Regions from separate parts of the Homo sapiens genome. Here all the other regions are linked to region 1. Evidence: fine-mapped expression QTL. A gene starts in region 1. Each other region holds a variant in brackets. All regions are shown on one strand. Distances are between the middles of the regions. Region 1 holds the start of FAM110C (family with sequence similarity 110 member C). Region 2 has its middle 21 kb from the start of FAM110C. Region 3 has its middle 57 kb from the start of SH3YL1. Region 4 overlaps LOC105373324 (a long non-coding RNA gene).

Region 1 (4,417 bases):
TGGGTTGATTCTACATCTTTGCCATTGTGAGTAGTGCTGCAGTGAACATATGTGTGCATGTATCTTCATAAGACAATAATTTGTATTTCTTTGGGTGTATACTCAGTAATGGTATTGCTGGGTCAAATGATATTTCTGGTTCTAGGTCTTTGAGTAATTGTCACACTGTCTTCCACAGTAGTTGAACTAATTTACATTCCCATCAATGTGTGAAAACGTTCCTATTTGTCTGCAGCCTCTCTAGCATCTGTTGTTTCTTGACTTTTTATAACAGCCATTCTGACTTGCGTGAGATGGTATTTCATTGGCTTTGATTTGCATCTCTCTAATGATCTATGATGTTGAGCTTTTTTCATATGTTTGTTGGCCACATAAATGTCTTCCTTTGAGAAGTGTCTGTTCATGTCCTTTGTCCGCTTTTTAATGGGATTGTCTTTTCTTGTAAATTTAAAACAGAAATTTTTACAGGTGACAAAACAACCTGGAACGTTTGTTACCTGTCCAAAGGTAAATTGTGGACCCAGGGTCAAATTCCAGAGGTCCTGTACTTTGCAGTTCTCTGTCTTAGAAGTGCTGCTGTTGCCCATGAAGTAGTGCAAATTAGGAAAAGAAGACACTTTGGGCTACACAATTAAAAAGGTTTTTTCCTCTGACTTAGGGAACAGGCTTGCCAAGCAGAGAGCAGGCTGGACTTTAGACCTCAAGGCCCCATCCTCCCGCATCCTGTAGGAAACCATCTGTGGCAACCCAGGAGCTCCCCCTTTCTCCATCTCTGTCCCTCTCTTTCACTCCCCACCCCCGCATCCTTCCTTCTCTTCTCCCACTCTCTACTTTATTGGCCTAGACTCCTTTTCCTATGAGTCTTACATGTTCCAACGAGGCTGTCTGGGCGGTCTGGCTTTCAGGAGGCGATTTATTGTTGTGCTACTATCCCTATGAAATTTTGCTTCGCTGGGGCTCAAGGAGATTAAAGACCCCCAAGGCCCACTCAGCACCACCCTGCTGCGGTCCTCTTCCTCGTTGGTGAGGTGTTCGTGCCCACTTTGGGGGCCCATCTGCACCTGTCGCCCTCCCTGCCTTCCGGGCTGCTGCTGCTCGGAGCGTTCAACCACAAGGCTGAAAGCACAGCCTGTTACGGAGTTGTCTTCACAACGCGATAACGTGAACATTTCACATGTCTGAGAGATAACTTTAGTATTTTGTCCAAATTTTTGAAATAATGGAGTTTGGGAAGTATTTTATCTTAGACTCTTAGCATTCCTAGGCTGATCCACTGCCTGGTGAACTCGTGGTTTCCCCGTTGCCTCGGTTACCGTAAAAATAGCAATGATTCTGGACACTTGGCTGGGCTTCTTCCAAATCCACTGAGCCGCGCCTGGGGCCCCAGCCTGCCCCACTGAGAGTCCTAGCTCGGTCCTCGGGCCCGGCCACGCCCGCTGCCGGCCAGCGACCGAGTCGGACCCAATCCGAGGCCCTGCGTTCTTGCCACCCAACACGTAGGCTGATCCTGGCGTGCGCTGCGTGTTCTTTCCTCTTATGTCCTATTCCTTTCTGTTAATAAGAATATGAGCTCAGGTAGACAAAATTAAACAGTCAAGTTTCCAAACACGATGAGGTCACTTTAAGAATTCAAAGGATGTGAGGCACCTGCCCGGGGGAGGTGGGGGGACGTCCCCTCTGCTCCCCCTCCCCGGAAATGCCTGCGTCCAGCAGTGACCTCGGGGATCTGGGGCTGAGCGAGTGGGGGTTCAGAGCCTGCTCGCCCCAGCGTCCTCCAGGCGGTTGGCAGCGCCGCCGGAAGGTGAGGGGGGGCGGGGACGGCACCGGGCAGGAGGTGAGGGCCGGGACCCCGGACGCGAGGTGAGGGCGGGCGCTGGCACCCGGAGAGCGGCCAGGGAGGCGGGCCCGGGCGGGAGTGAGGAGGCGGGGACGGGCGGGGACGAGCGGGGATGCGGGGACGCGGCCAGGGCCGGGGCACCGGGCGGGGGCGGGGGCGGTGCCAGTCGGTGTGGGCGATGAGGTCGGGAGGGGCGGGAACTGGGGAGTTTCGCCAATCGGTGCAGACTCCGGTTCTCCCCAACCCCGGGCCTGGGCAGCTGGGCACTGGGGCGCCGTTCCCCACCCGGCGCGGACTTCGGAACCGGCCCTGGGACTGACTGGCTCTACCACTCGAGCGCGTCTCCGCTGGACCCGGAACCCCGGTCGGTCCATTCCCCGCGAAGATGCGCGCCCTGGCGGCCCTGAGCGCGCCCCCGAACGAGCGGCTCCTTCCCCGGGACCCCGCGGCTACCCGGGACCCCGACGCCGCGCGGCCGGCGCGCAGGAGCGCAGTGGAGAGGCTGGCGGCGGATCGCGCCAAGTATGTGCGGGGTCGGCCGGGGACTGGCCGGGGCGTCGCTTCCGAGGGCAGCGGCCCGGGGGCGATCAAGTGCCCGGGGAACGACCCTGGGCCCCCGGCCCGCGCCCCGGCCCCGGTGGCGCGCAGGGCTATTGCGCGGAAGCCGTTGAGACCGGACTCGCTGATCATCTACCGGCAGAAATGCGAATTCGTGCGAGGATCGGGCGCCGACGGCCCCAGGGCAAGCCTGGTGAAGAAGCTCTTCCAGGGGCCGGGTAAGGACAAGGCGCCGGTGCCCCGGACGGGAGACGAGGGCAAGGCCGGGAACCCGGAGACGGTCCCGACCACTCCTGGCCCCGCGGCGGACCCCGCAATCCCCGAGACCCCAGCCCCAGCCGCGCGGTCCGCGGCGCCCTCCAGTGTCCCGGCCGCGCCCCCTGGGCCAGAGCCGCGGGTGGTGAGGCGTCGGGGGCTGCAGCGCTCACAGTCGGACCTCAGCTCCCGCTATTCCGCTGCCTTGGCCGAGTCTGACACCTTCTTCCAGTACTGCGGCCTGGACCCCGAGGTGGTGGAGGCCCTGGGGAGGGAGAACTTCACCGCGGGGTCGGACTGTGTGACCCTCAAGGTGCGCAGCGTGAGCGTCGCCACCTCCGGCAGCGGCTTCTCCCGGCACAGCGGCGGCGACGACGAGGGGCTGCAGGAGGAGGAGCTGATAGAGCAGGTGCCCAGCACCACTTCGGTCATCGAGAGGAACGCCCGCATCATCAAGTGGCTGTACACCTGTAAGAAGGCCAAGGAGACCCCCAGCCAGGAGCAGAGCCGGACCCGAGGTGTGTGCCCAGAAGGCTGGGGGCGGGGCTGGCCGTGTGCGGGGCTGTGAATCTTGGTGAGTGTGACCGAGCTGGGCGATGGCCAGTTACAGCTGCTTAGAATTGAGTGCGATTTTGAGCTACAGTGTGAAAGGGACCCAAGAGACTGACGCAGAGGCTTGTGAGTTGAGCCCCCGCTGCTGAAGAGCAGAAGGTACCAATCCAGGCACCTGCTGGTCCAGGCCCTTAGGAGTCTGCTGCGTCTGGCTGCCTGGAAAGGCAATTCTGCAAATTAATATGTCCCATTTGGCTTATTATTGTGAAAACAGGAGAAATCCAAAATGCTGCCAGAAAGCAGTTTTACACCCCTAGTATTCTTTCCTGAGCTGAAAACAGCTTGAGAGCCCTAGTTCCTGAGTTCATTGACCTGTGCTGTGGGCGGTCCTGATGTTTGATTGGAGCTGACCAGTCCACCTGCAGCCCTAGGTAGGCGCTGCTGTGTTACTGGAACAGAAAGGAAGACTCCCTGCACTTTCCTGGAGGCCTGTGCTGAAGTGGTGAGAACTTCTCCACAGGATCTTGTAGCACTTTGGCATTCACTTAGCAACAAAGATCTTTATTTGGCTAAATTTTATTTAAATTGTTTTGAGAGCTTCAGGTTTTTAAACTGGGGAAATTGGACTAGATTGTAACTAGAGTCTATAGTTTATTTGCCTCTGATGACACTACAGGAAGTAACCTCCCTTTGGACAACCAGTAGTGCCGGATTGACCTCGAGCTCTTTTTGCTTTTCACTGGGGAACTGAGGAGTGCTGGTCTTCACTGTTACCTGCTCTTCCCTATGGGCGTCTTGGAAAGTAGTGAAGAGAAAGAACCTTTTCAGGGCTGTCTTTGAGAACGAACAATTTAAACTTTGCGACATCTTTTTTTTCCTCTTACCCTTCAATGACAACTTGCTATAAGTAAATTTTAAAAATCATGAGATGAAATTATTTTCTGCCATTGTGATAAACTAAGTGAAGATGCATGGCAGCCTGTAGAGTTTGGGGGAGGCTGCCCAAGAGATGTTTGCACAGGGCTCACCTATGTTTGACAGCTAAAAATATCTCCAATAATTTCTCTGGCTATGACTTTAGTACAGACATGAAAATTAATGAGAAGAAGATAATTCATTCTTTTTCTTGAACTCAGAAGGCTCAGGACTTAAGTTCTTCCTTATAATTTATAGAAGATTTGTGTTTTCCACTAGCCTAAGTTCCCAACAAATATA
Region 2 (4,417 bases), 21 kb after region 1:
TCACAGTACCAGCTTGACAGAACACCTGCAGATGCAAATAACTGAAAATCCAGCTCAATGTGACTTTAAATACAAGGCAATTTATTGACTCAGGTGGGTAGTTCAGAAGGGAGCCAGGCTTCAGGGTGAATCTGAGCAGAGAAGCTCATGAATGCTACCCAGGAATCAGTCTCTTCCTAATTTTCTGCTCTGCCTTCAGTGAAGTCAGAATCATTCTGAGTCTGGCAAAATCTCCAGGAACAATTTCTGAGGCTGTATTCTTCATCAAAGGGGGAACATGAACAAGCACACTCTTGTTCCTAACAACCTAGCACAACTTGTATTTGACTCTAATTGGAACAACTCAGGCCCTTGCCTGTCCCGAAGTCCATTAGGGGGCCAAGGGAGTGCTGTGTGGCACCTGGCATGAGCCTCAGTTATGCACCCACCTTGGAACCAATAACTGTGACACAGGATGAGACAGAGCTGGTTAGGTTAAGTCAACCAGCACCCACCCCATGTTTCAAACCATGTGACTAAATAATTCAGGGCTCTGTTAGGCAGAAGAAAGGTGGATGCTTCTTGAATAGCACCCAACACTCAACTACAATTTAATTTGACAGGAACCCAGAGGCCTTGCCCATAGAAATCTCTCACAGTTGCTTGGAGAGAGAGCACTCAATACAAAAATCTTATGGCAGCAATCTTGTGGCCTCAAGCGTGCCACGGACTTGGTGTGGAGGGTGGGGTAAGGCTCAGTGTCTTTTGAAGATGAAGCAGAAGAATAGATTGTACTGACTTAGCAGAGTGGAAAATGTTTAATCCCAAGAGATGCCTACAAAGGCAGCTGAGCCAAACCACAGACTCCTAGAAGGGCTTGGGTTAGGGTTCTCAAGTGTCTAGATAAGCAGAGGAGATCGTGAGGCAGACACAGAGGGTCGGCTCAAAGCACATTGGGAAGAGTGTGATCCCAAGTCCCCCTCATTCCACACTGGCAGTCAAATACTCTTCCCTGACATCAGAAAAAGAAACAATTTATTTTCTTCAGACATTGAAAAAGGACTTTTCTAAGTTCCAGGACATTGGGTAATGCTGCTTATGCAAAGAGAGTGTTTAGTGAAAGCCAATTTACTGAGCGGGGAGATCCACAGACTCTTTCTCCCTCTTGGCTCCCAGAATGCTGGGGTCAGGCTTGCAGTCTTAGGAGATTGGCGAACCTTTTTGGAGAGGATCTGCAGATACCAACACTTTCAGGGTTTCTTCAGGTCCAGGAGTGCCAGGCTCCCGTGGACTCTTCCTTTGGGGAAGCAAAGGAAGACTCCATCTGTGCATACAGAATGCATTAATTATATTTTCTTATTTTCTATTTTCTTGATGCTCTAGCATCTGGGGTTTACTGGAAAAAGATTGCCTTTCCCAGGGCCAGCCAATTAAACTACCAATTCAGAAACCATACTCCTAACCACCTACTTTATCTGGCTCTGATACTGTAGGAGAAAATACCTGCCTTCCCTAATCACCCCAGGGCCAGGTACTAGGCAACTAGAGATGGCCCTTATGGCCCAGAGCCTGCTGAAGTTATTCACACTGGCCAGCCTAAGCCTGCCTGCCCTGCCTGGCCTTGCTGTCCCACAGAGACCACAGCAGAGGCTACTGCCCATGCCTTCCCCTCTCTCCTTCTGCCTCTGCCTGGGGCTTCCCTTTGCCTCCTATTTCTAGGGATTCGTGAGTATGAACGGGACAGTCACTTCCATGTCTGCCGGTCCTAACATCTCTGATTAAAACAAATTCTGAGTACATTTTAAAACATAAGGCTTCCAGTGGAATTTTTAAAACCCTTATATGGAGAATTTTAAACATATATGTAAATAAACGATGACTATAACAAACTCCTATATATCTATAACCCTTCAGAACAACCAGAAGAACATGGCCACTTCTGTTCCATCTATATTCCCAAATAAAATTCATACATTGTGATTAGCTGATGTGTTTTTAAGCCTATAGAATTTATACATTTCCCCTATATCTCTTATATATCATTTTCTTGTAATTTATTTGTTGAAGAAGCTGTATTGATTTTCCTGATTCATCTTCAGAGTTTAAAATGGAATTTCACAGAAAGAAAAGCATAAAAGCAGAAGGAATA[C/A]AAATGTCAGAAAATAAATCAGTGGGATTTAAATGGTACAGCTGCTTTGGAAAACAGTTTGGCAGTTCCTCAAAAAGTAAGACAGAGAATTACTCTTTGACCCATCAATTCTACTGAAGCCTTCATACTGAAGAGAATTAAAAACATATGTCCGCACAAAAACTTATACACAGATGTCCGTAGCAGCATTATCCATAATAGCCAAAAAGTAGAAACAACCAAAACGTCCACCAACTGATGAGCGGATAAATAATATGAAGTATGTCCACACAATGGAATATTATTCAGCCTCAAAAAGGAATGGTTGTCAGAGGTTGGAGGAGGGAAAAATGGGAAATACAGCGTTTCTTTCTGGGGTGCTGCAAATGTGTTAAAATTAAATAGGGATGAAGTCTGTGCTACTTCCAGAAAGTGCTAAATTGTACACTTTACATGAGTAAAATGTAGTATGTGAATTTTATCTCAACTTAAAAATCAAGAACATTTTCCAGAAATAAAGTTTATGAATTTTCAGATTTAAAAGATCTAATGAGTTCCCCTCAACATGAATTTAAAGCACATTATTGTGAAATTTGATAACAACAGAGGTAAAGATCTGAAAAGTTTCCAGAGAGGTGAAAGAAAAAGATCACCTGCAAAGAATCAAGAACCAAAATGGCACTGAAGTTTTTCATTGAAATTCTAGATATAATAAGAAAACAAAATTTGGCCTTAACATCCTGAGAGAAATATATATATTTTAAACCCAACTAAACCGCCAACCCAGTGTGAGAATAGTGCTCAGGCATTTAGGGACATGCACAGCATCAAAGCTTTACCTTAGATCAGGAAGCTACAGTAAAGTGGCAACCTAAGAAATGGGAGAAATGAATTCCAGGAGCAGGTGATCCATGCAGGAGAGAGGAGCAGCATTGCTTCGCCGGGGTGAAGCAATTCAAGCTGGAGACACTGAGACAAACACAGGGGCGCCTGGCATTCTATGAGAGGCAGTACAGTGGTTCTCACAACTCAGTAAATGTGGCAATTACCTCTTATCTGGTTACAATGCATCTTCCCAGGCCTGCCAGCAGGGATTCTAAATCCTGATATGGCAAATGATATGGTAACACTTGTGGTTATAGACATGAGTGTTTGAATCACAGATCCAGCTCTAAACCCAAATCCCCTCAGTAATTAACTGTATACTGTCATTTAATTGCTTAATCTCTCCAGCACGCCACTTCCTCAGGCTGATTCATATGGGAATATAAATTCATTGGAGTGTTATAAAGGGTAGTTTGTACAATGCACTTGTGACTATGAAATGCTTAGCATGGCATCCAAAAAGTCCTCAATAAGTGGTGCAACAATACTTTTTTATACAGAGAACACACCCCACTCAGAAAAAAGTGTTCATAGGGGATTAAGAGAAGTAAGTACAGTTGGGTGAGCAGAGAGAGCCAGTGTGGCAAGGGCCTTTCTTAGGTGAGGCATCCACCACATTTGAAAGTGGGATGCAGGGCCAGAGCTGAACATTAACCAGGACTGGCAGGAATGAAGTAAACAGCTCACACCTGTTCCTTCATGGGTCTGTTCCTTTCATTTTCACTTTTGACTCTGATGCAAAATTAGAATTCTTCTCTGCTCAAATTTCACTATTCTTAATAAAGTACATAAGTAGGATCCAAAAACTTCAATTGTGTAAAATACATGCTTTTGTTAATGCAAGGCAAATGGGAAATATGTTGTACTTGGTCATCGCCATCACAATAACACAAATTCTAAAACATACACTGTTTACAACTGAACCACACCCTCAAATAATAAAAAAAAAAGGTCCCTCCCTAACCTCTCTCCTCAGCAAGAGAAGGAGTTTGGTTGCCCCAACCTGGGCAGGAGAGCAGGTGGAGAGTGGGAGCCCGCAGCTGCAGTGGCAAGAAGCATGAGGACTGATGGCTTTGACCAAATAACAGGGAATTGGGTTGAGTTGTTTGAATCATTTTCCAATAACTGAATTATGAAATAGATCAGACTCATTGAAGGAGCTGGGGAATGAGAGCCTACCCCTCAGTCTCCAGCCTCCCCAAACTACGTGTTTCTCCAGAGTAACCTTGAGCCTCTCCCAGCATGGATTGAAACCCATGGCTCTTCCAGATCTAAAATCTGAGGCTCTAAAATTTAAGTCACAGTTAGGCACTTCCACACCTGTGATGGTAACATGCTTACATACTCAGTCTATCATTGTTTAATATTTAATGAAAGACACACATTTTGTTTACTTATGCAGCAGCTTGCCTGTGTTCACTTGCG
Region 3 (4,417 bases), 160 kb before region 1:
CTCTTTTATATCTTCTGTCTTTTTGTCTCATGGGACTATATTCTGGATTTATTTAGATGTATCTTCCCGTTTTCTGATTCACCTTCAAGTGTCTCTAATTTGCTTTTTAATATTCATTGGGTTTTAAATGTCAGTTATTACAGCTTTTATTTGTGAAAGTTCTAGTGTCTTTTTCAAATATTATCCCTTTATTGTCTCTTGTTCTTGCTATATTTTCAGTTATTTTCTGTTATTTCTGTAGCCATATCAAACACAATCATTTTGTATTTCATGTCTGGTAACCCCATCCTGCGCCCTTGAGAGCCTGAATGTTTCTTTGCTGTTTCTCTCTCCTGGTGACTTGCTTCTTTATTTGTTGTCATTTTTATAGGAAACTGATCAATTTCCTCAGTACTATAATTATATCTGGGCTTAATGTTGCAGATTTCCAGATGAAACTTGTTTCTGCCGGTTGCTTTGGGGCTCAAGTAACCCAGAACTGCTTCATGTTGGGGCATCTAATTGGGTTTTGGACCACGAGTCTGTGTGTGTGACCTATGCCAGCACTGATGTAGGACAATTTCCAATTTTTTCTTTTGTGTGTAGAGTTTATTTCTTTTTATTCTTACACAGAGTGCATGGCCTTTGGAGTCTCAGATTATTTGGGGATCTCTGATTCATCTTCCCACCTTACACAGCCCTTGACTTCTTCTCCTGAATTTTGTATCCAGTGCAGCCTTCAGAGTCCAGTCTGCAATCTGCACCCAATCTGGGTTAGGCATTACCTTACAGGATTCCTGCCTTCACTTTGTTTTTGCTCTCTGCATTCCTATTTTTTGTGCCAGCTCAGCATTGCTTTTAAAAATATCTATTTCCTCCTGTACTTTAATGGACATGGTTACTAAAAGTATAAAATCTGGCTTACTGTTGGAAACAGTCTTTTTAACTCTTAGTTCAAGCTGCTACAGCAAAGTGCCATAGACTAGGTGGCTTGTAAACAATAGATACGCATTTCTCACAGTTGTGGAGGCTGGAGGTCCAAGATCAAGGTGCCAGCATGGTCGTGTTCTGATGAGCACCTGTTCTGGGTTGCAGGTGGTGCCTTCCTGCTGTTCCCTCACGTGGTGTAAGGTGTGAGGTATCTCTGGGGCCTCTTTTATAAGGGCTCTAATCTCATCCATGGGGCTCCCCTCCAGACCTCGTCACCTCCTCAACACCCCTCCTAACCCCGTCAAACTGGGGAGTAGATTTCAACTTAGGAGTTTGGGGGAAGACAAACATTCAGCTCACAACAGACCCTTTATTTAAGTTTTGTTAGTTTGCTTTGTTTTCATTTTCTGTTTTCTAAGGGGTTCCTTGCAATGGCTCTTCATGGGGCTGCATCTGTGTTTGCTACCCTTTTGGAGATAAGTCTGCTTTTCTATTTATTTTCTGACTTCTATCAGTTCATGGTCATTGTCTTCTGGTGTCTCATCATCTCTCCCTTGAAATGTTGCGTTCTGGATTTGTGATCTTCCTTTATAGTAGTAATGGCTGCATTAATTTTTGTGGTTGATGAAATATTTAACTGCATTATTTATTTTGTGGAAACAATTTTGGATGTTACTTAGTTCTACAACTTTCCTTCATTTCTTCCTCCCTCCCTCTCTCCCTCCCTTCCTCCCTCCCTTCCTCCCTCCCTTCCTTCCTCCCTTCCTCCCTCCCTTCCTCCCTCCCTCCCTCCCTCCCTCCCTCCTTTCCTCCCTCCCTTCCTCCCTCCCTTCCTCCCTCCCTCCCTTCCTTCCTCCCTCCCTCCCTCCCTCCCTTCCTCCCTCCCTCCCTTCCTTCCTCCCTCCCTCCCTTCCTCCCTCCCTCCCTCCCTCCCTCCCTTCCTTCCTCCCTTCCTTCCTCCCTTCCTCCCTCCCTTCCTCCCTCCCTCCCTCCCTCCCTCCCTCCTTTCCTCCCTCCCTTCCTCCCTCCCTTCCTCCCTCCCTCCCTTCCTTCCTCCCTCCCTTCCTCCCTCCCTTCCTCCCTCCCTCCCTTCCTTCCTCCCTCCCTCCCTTCCTCCCTCCCTCCCTCCCTCCCTCCCTTCCTTCCTCCCTTCCTTCCTCCCTTCCTCCCTCCCTTCCTCCCTCCCTTCCTCCCTTCCTCCCTCCCTCCCTCCCTCCCTCCCTTCCTCCCTCCCTCCCTTCCTCCCTCCCTCCCTCCCTCCCTCCCTCCCTCCCTCCCTCCCTTCCTCCCTCCCTCCCTTCCTCCCTCCCTCCCTCCCTTCCTCCCTCCCTTCCTCCCTCCCTTCCTCCCTCCCTCCCTTCCTCCCTTCCTCCCTCCCTTCCTCCCTCCCTTCCTCCCTCCCTTCCTCCCTCCCTTCCTCCCTTCCTTCCTACCTTCCTCCCTTCCCCCCCCACCCCAGTTTCCCTCTCTTTCCCATGCAAGGGATGTGGTTTGGCCCTCAGCATGCGGCACCCTCACGGCCCTGGGTCTCTGGTCACTGGGGTTTCTCTGGTTTCTGATTCTTCCCACACAGCTCGTGCCTGACCTCAACTGGGTCTGACAGTCCTTAGAATTCATGTGTAGTCTGAGGATTATATTAACACCTGTTCCTTGTTTTGCTGATAATGGGGTTTTTAAGTTTTACACTTAAAAAACTGTATTATCATGGTGGCTTTTCAGTGATTTCTGGGAATAGC[G/A]AAGAGAATGCCAACTTCTTCAGCAACGTTCATTCTGCAAGTCTACATTGATCTGTTCAAATTTTAACATGGCGACATTTTTGTGTGACTTAGAAAACATATACAACTGTCACATCAAACCCATTGTTTCCTGAATAGAGTTAGTTAGAGTAAGATAAAACCTAGTAATTTTAATTGTATTTTATGTACATTATACAAACTATAAGCAAGTACATTTAAGAATACATGTGAATATTTCAAAACTTCAGCAACTGAATTGGCTGCTACATATGTTTCGAATTTGGGGTAATGTGAATGAAATAAATTAAAAATGTATATTTTCCAAGATTCAGTTCCGTGCCCACAATTGAGATCTACACTATAATATGTGGAACATCAAATCTGGATGTGGACGGTTTTTATTATAAATATTCAAGTTGTTTCACAATAAAAATCTCCTTACCGTTGCTACATAGAGATACCTTTGCCATTGAAATTATGCTGAATTTTTCGTATGACAGTGAAAATTGCCAATTATGTTTAAGGACAGAGTACTGCATTCTCAGTTTTATAGAAAGTCACATGAAACATTTGAAATTGGGACTCTGTAAATTTTTTTTCAGAACAGGTGGTGGAGTGACGGAAAACAAACCTAGTTGTGCTCTTTCTGTACATGGTGAAATAACACCCAGCAAGAGAACAGCATATTGCTCATGAAGGCTTTTGGAAACAAAAGTATCTTGAAAAAAATAGTTACTTTCTTAATTTTGTCAAGAAATTAGCATGAGAAAATAGTGAAATAATTGTGATTTTTCAAATATAGGAGGTGGTATTTGGAGAAGGGCTTAGCATAAAAAACCAAAACACTAACTTGTCTTCTGAAATGGAAACAAATTTATCCTCATCCTAGCCTAAATGACATCTACTCAAATACCCATTTGTTGCTAACTCGTTATAAATCTCCATTTTTTAATCATTCAGAAACTATCTTTAAAGTTTCATTTTGTAAAATCCAACATGTATATTAAGGTATGTTCCATTCTTCTGTCAGTGAAAAGAGTCAAACTCTAAAATATTTTAAGAGATTTATCCTGAGCCAAGTAAGTGACCAATGGCCTGTAACACAGCCCACAGGAGATCCTGAGAACTTGCACCCATGGTGGTCAGGCTACAACTTGGTTTTATACATTTTAGGGAGACGTGAGATGTCAGTCGATACATGTGAGATGTACATTGGTTCGGTCCAGAAGGGTGGGACAACTAGAAGCGGGGGCTTCCAGATTACAGGTAGATTAAAAGATTTTCTGACTGGCAATTCATTGAAATAATTAAGCTATTATCTAAAGACTTAGAATCAATAGAAAGGAATGTCTGGGTTAAGATAACGGGTTGTGGAGACCAAGGTTTTATCATGCAGATGATAAAACCAGTAGCAGGCTTCAGAGAGAATAGATTGTAAAGGTTTTTAATCAGACTTAAGATCTGTGTTGATGTTAATGCTGGTCAGCTTTTCCTGAATTCCAAAAGGGAGGAGAGCATAATGAAGCATGTCTGACTCCCACCTTCCCATGATGGCCTGAACTAGTTTTCCAGGTTAACTTTGGAATGCCTTTTACCGAGAGAAAGGGTTCCTTCAGATGGTTGGGGGCCTTATAATTTTATTTTTGGTTTACACTTCTATTTATTTTTTTAAAATGACACATGTAAGCCCCCAGTTACATGTAAATATTTTAGTTAGTTTTTATTTATTTCAAATTATACCAATATTTCATTTAAGTTACCAATATAAGATA
Region 4 (4,417 bases), 110 kb before region 1:
TGAGATTGCTCAATATAGAGTAACTTGTTTTTCTTATAGAATTATCAGAAAGTAATGCTTTTTTGAAATGTTGTTTCACTAAAATATTTTTAATTTGTTTTCTTGGTATTTCGTTATGACAATTTTTTCCTTCTACCTCAACTGCCGTACTGTCAGCATTTCCTGAGGGTCCGATAAGTAGGGAAATGCACCAAGAAGCAACGTGGACCAAGCAATAAAAATAAACAAATAAAAGAAGAAAATCCCACTGCAAAAAAGTCTGAAACAGAATTCTTGACTCCCCGACATTCATCCCTGCCTCAGCCTGTCCCCCATTTCACCCTCCTTATTTCCACACAGGGCTGTGCATCCCTACTCGCTCAGATCTAAAACTCTACACCCTATGCCCAACTCCTCTTTCCTGCACACTTCCTACCAGCCCATCAGAAAGCCTGCTGACTCCTCTCCTGAAGCACTGCGTGAGGGTGACCCCTCCTCCCTGTGAGCACCGCAACAGCCCCAGTGGAACCACCATCCCGGCCCCGATGCAACTGTTTCCCCACAGGGTCCCCACACATAGCCATGGTGTATCCCCTCCAAAACACCCACTCTGCCTGAACACTTCCCCAGCTCTTTATATGACTGCCTTCATTGTATCATTCATCTCTTACCTCAATTGAACTTCCTCAAAGAAGTGTCCTCACTTATTCTACATATGACAACATGAGTAACATCACTCCTTTCCCCAGACTCACTCGTCATTCCATTGCATTTCCCATTTTCTACAGTGATCACAAAGTCTGTATCTAATTGGAAAATACTTATCTGCTTTACTTATCATCTGCTTTAATTTTTAAGTTTTCTTTTTTCTTCTGGACATCAACTTCCATGTTGATGGACGCTGTTGAGCATTTCCTAGGAAGTGTTTAGGTTTGAGCTGCAAGAGCTGCCTTGTCCAAGACTGATTTCCACAGGCTGGTCTCCTGCAAAGCCTCATGGCTATGGCCAAGTGCTTAAGCTCAGATGGGGTGGTGAATTGGTGAATTACACCAGAACCCTGCCATGCCATAGAAGCTACAACTGCAAGGTTAGAAGCTCAGTGCCGTGATCTGGCCAAGTGTTGAAACTCAGATGGGGTGGTGAATTGGTGAATCATGTCACGACCCTTCCATGCCGTAGAAGCCACAACTACAAGGCTAGGAACCCAGTGTCCTGTTGAGAGACAGGACTAGCTGGATTTCCTAGGCCAACTAAGAATCCCTAAGCCTAGCTGGGAAGGTGACCACATCCACCTTTAAACACGGGGCTTGCAACTTAGCTCACACCCGACCAATCAGGTAGTAAAGAGAGCTCACTAAAATGCTAATTAGGCAAAAACAGGAGGTAAAGAAATAGCCAATCATCTATCACCTGAGAGCACAGTGGGAGGGACAATGATTGGGATATAAACCCAGGCATTTGAGCCGGCAATGGCTACGCTCTCTGGGTCCCCTGCCTTTGTATGGGAGCTCTGTTTTCACTCTATTAAATCTTGCAACTGCACACTCTTCTGGTACATGTTTGTTACGGCTCGAGCTGAGCTTTCACTCACCATCCACCACGGCTGTTTGTCGCTGATGCAGACCTGCCACTGACTTCCACCCCTCCGGATCTGACAGGGTGTCTGCTGTGCTTCTGATCCAGTGAGGCACCCGTTGCTGCTCCGGATCAGGCTAAAGGCTTGCCATCGTTCCTGCACGGCTAAGTGCCCAGGTTCATCCTAATCGAGCTGAACACTAGTCGCTGTGTTCCACGGTTCTCTTCCATGACCCACAGTTTCTAATAGAGCTATAACACTCACCACATGGCCCAAGATTTTCCATTCCTTGGAATCCGTGAGGCCAAGAACCCCAGTTCAGAGAACAAGAGGCTTGCCGCCATCTTGGAAGTGGCCTGCCACCATCTTGGCAGCTCTGGGAGCAAGGAACCCTGGTAACATTCTGGTAACCATGAAGGGACCTCCAAAGTGGTGAGTAATATTGGACCACTTTTGCTTGCTATTCTGTCCTATCCTTCCTTAGATTGGAGGAAAATACCGGGCACCTGTCAGCCAGTTAAAAACAATTAGCATGGCTGCTGCTAAGACTCAGGTGTGAGGCTGTCTGGAGAAGGGCTTTCTAACAACCCCCAACCCTTCTGTGGTCTGCCTGGAACCAGCTTCCACTTTCAATTTTCTTGGGGAAGCCAAGGGCAGACTAGAGGCAGAAAGCTGTTGTTCCAAACTCCCTGAATTAGCTGGTTGAGATCATGGTGCAGCCAGAAGTCTCTATTCTACATGTGTGCACCCCTACCTTTCCTTCTGACCCATACTTCCTGGGTCCCAACCATGACTTTCTTGAAAGTGTAGCCCCAAAATTCTCCTTACCTCTGAATCTACTTCCTCCAATCCCTGCCTCCTAAGTACTAATGGTTCAGACTTTC[C/G]TTTTTCCTCTAGCAAGTTGTATCTCCAAAGGGATCTAGGGAAGCTCTACGCTGCATCCTCAGGCATCTAGGCTATAAACCCAGGGAGTCTTAGTGTCCCTCCTGATTTAGGTATACAGCTCTCAACATGGGCAGTTATGTGGGACCCATTCCCCACCACTCTTGCCAGGGTCCCAAGTTTGTAAACGGCAGAGAGAGATGGGGAGAGAGAGAGAGAGAGAGAAAGAGAGAGAAACAGAGAGAGACAGAGACAGAGAGACAGAGGAGAGAGACAAAGGAGAGAGATGGAGAGGAGAGAGACAGAGAGGAGAGAGAGAGACAGAGAGGAGAAAGAGGCAGAGAGACAAGCAGGGAGTCAAAGAGAGAAGGAGAAAGATAGAAATAGTAAAAAAAAAAAAGTGTGCCCTATTCCTTTAAAAGCTAGGGTAAATTTAAAACCTATAATTGATAATTGAAGGTCTTCTCCATGACTCTATAACACTCCAATACTACCTTGTTGTCAGTGTAAACAAGGGCGTAGCCTGAAAACACTGAGACCACTGACAACCCGTAGCCTTCCTATTAAAAATCCTTAACCCAGTAACCCGTGGATGGCCCAAATGCATTCAATCTGTAGCGGCAATTGCTTTGCCAACAGAAGAAAGTAGAAAAGTAACTTTTAGAGGAAACCTCATTGTGAGCACACCTCACCAGTTAAGAATTATTCTAAGTCAAAAACCAAAAAGGTAGCTTACTAACTCCAAAATCTTAAAGTATGGGGCTATTCTGTTAGAAAAAGGTGATTTAACATTAACCACTGAAAATTACCTTAACCAAGCAGATTTCCTAACAGGGGATTTAAATCTTAATTACCATACAAAGATCCAACCAGACATAGGAGGAACTCCCTTCAGGACAGGACCATAGATGGTTCCTCCCAAATGATTGAGGAAAAAAAACACAATGGGTATCAGTAATTGATAGGGAGATTCTTGTGGAAGCAGAGTTAGGAGAATTGCCTAAAAAATGGTCTGCTCAAATGTTGGAGCTGTTTGCACTCAGTCAAGCTTTAAAGTACTTACAGAATCAAAAAACTCTATCTCAATCCTGACTCAAAAAGTTAGCTACACCGTCTCTGGAATGAATTTGCATAAGATCTGTTGTTTATGGGGATGCATCTTGATGGGACAACTGGGTTGTTATGAAATACTCAGGAACCCAGCCCAGCTCTAGGACTCACCGCTGAGCACAAAGGCAATGTTGGGCACGCTGGTAAAGGACCACTAGAATCCAGCAGCCTGGACCCCTTTCTTTGTGGTCAAGAAAGGCGGGAAAAGGGGTGCAGGACTGCTATATCAGTAAGTATAACTAAGAATTCAGCCCAGCCAGAGTGCATGTACCTTTTTCTCTCTCAGACTTAAAGCACATTAAAATAGACCTAGGTAAATTCTCAGATAACCCTGATGGCTATATTGATGTTTTACAAGGGTTAGGACAATCCTTTGATCTGACATGGAGAGATATAATGTTACTGCTAGATCAGACACTTACCCCAAATGAGAGAAGTGCCACCATAACTGCAGCCCGAGAGTTTGGTGATCTCTGGTATCTCAGTCAGGTCAATGACAGGATGACAACAGAGGAAAGAGAGTGATTCCCCACAGGCCAGCAGGCAGTTCCCAGTGTAGACCCTCATTGGGACACAGAATCAGAACATGGAAATTGGTGTCACAGACATTTGCTAACTTGCGTGCTAGAAGGACTAAGGAAAACTAGAAAGAAGCCTATGAATTATTCAATGATGTCCACTATAACACAGGGAAAGGAAGAAAATCCTACTGCCTTTCTGGAGAGACTAAGGGAGGCATTGAGGAAGCATACCTCCCTGTCACCTGACTCTTTTGAAGGCCAACTAATCTTAAAGGATAAGTTTATCACTCAGTCAGCTGCAGACAAAAGAAAAAAACTTCAAAAGTCCCCCTTAGGCCCAGAGCAAACT

Evidence for each region. PIP is the estimated chance that this variant, and not a neighbour inherited with it, causes the effect. A credible set is the group of variants that fine-mapping cannot tell apart.
Region 2: its variant is the best candidate, but not a certain one, in a credible set for the expression of FAM110C in lung (TOPMed, PIP 0.67).
Region 3: its variant is the best candidate, but not a certain one, in a credible set for the expression of FAM110C in blood mononuclear cells (TOPMed, PIP 0.59).
Region 4: its variant is the best candidate, but not a certain one, in a credible set for the expression of FAM110C in whole blood (INTERVAL, PIP 0.76).

What each region holds. Positions count from the first base shown.
Region 1 is chr2:44,191-48,607 of GRCh38, reverse strand. FAM110C (family with sequence similarity 110 member C) reads left to right here and starts at 2,103. Exons shown (of 2, transcript NM_001077710.3): 1 at 2,103-3,168. The coding sequence starts at 2,223.
Region 2 is chr2:23,518-27,934 of GRCh38, reverse strand. No RefSeq gene overlaps it. Among named protein-coding and RNA genes, the nearest start is that of FAM110C, 21 kb to the left of the region's middle. The variant C/A (reference allele first, on the strand shown) is at 2,129.
Region 3 is chr2:204,933-209,349 of GRCh38, reverse strand. No RefSeq gene overlaps it. Among named protein-coding and RNA genes, the nearest start is that of SH3YL1, 57 kb to the left of the region's middle. The variant G/A (reference allele first, on the strand shown) is at 2,646.
Region 4 is chr2:157,561-161,977 of GRCh38, reverse strand. LOC105373324 (a long non-coding RNA gene) reads left to right here. Exons shown (of 4, transcript XR_922689.3): 4 at 1-1,254. Among named protein-coding and RNA genes, the nearest start is that of SH3YL1, 100 kb to the left of the region's middle. The variant C/G (reference allele first, on the strand shown) is at 2,440.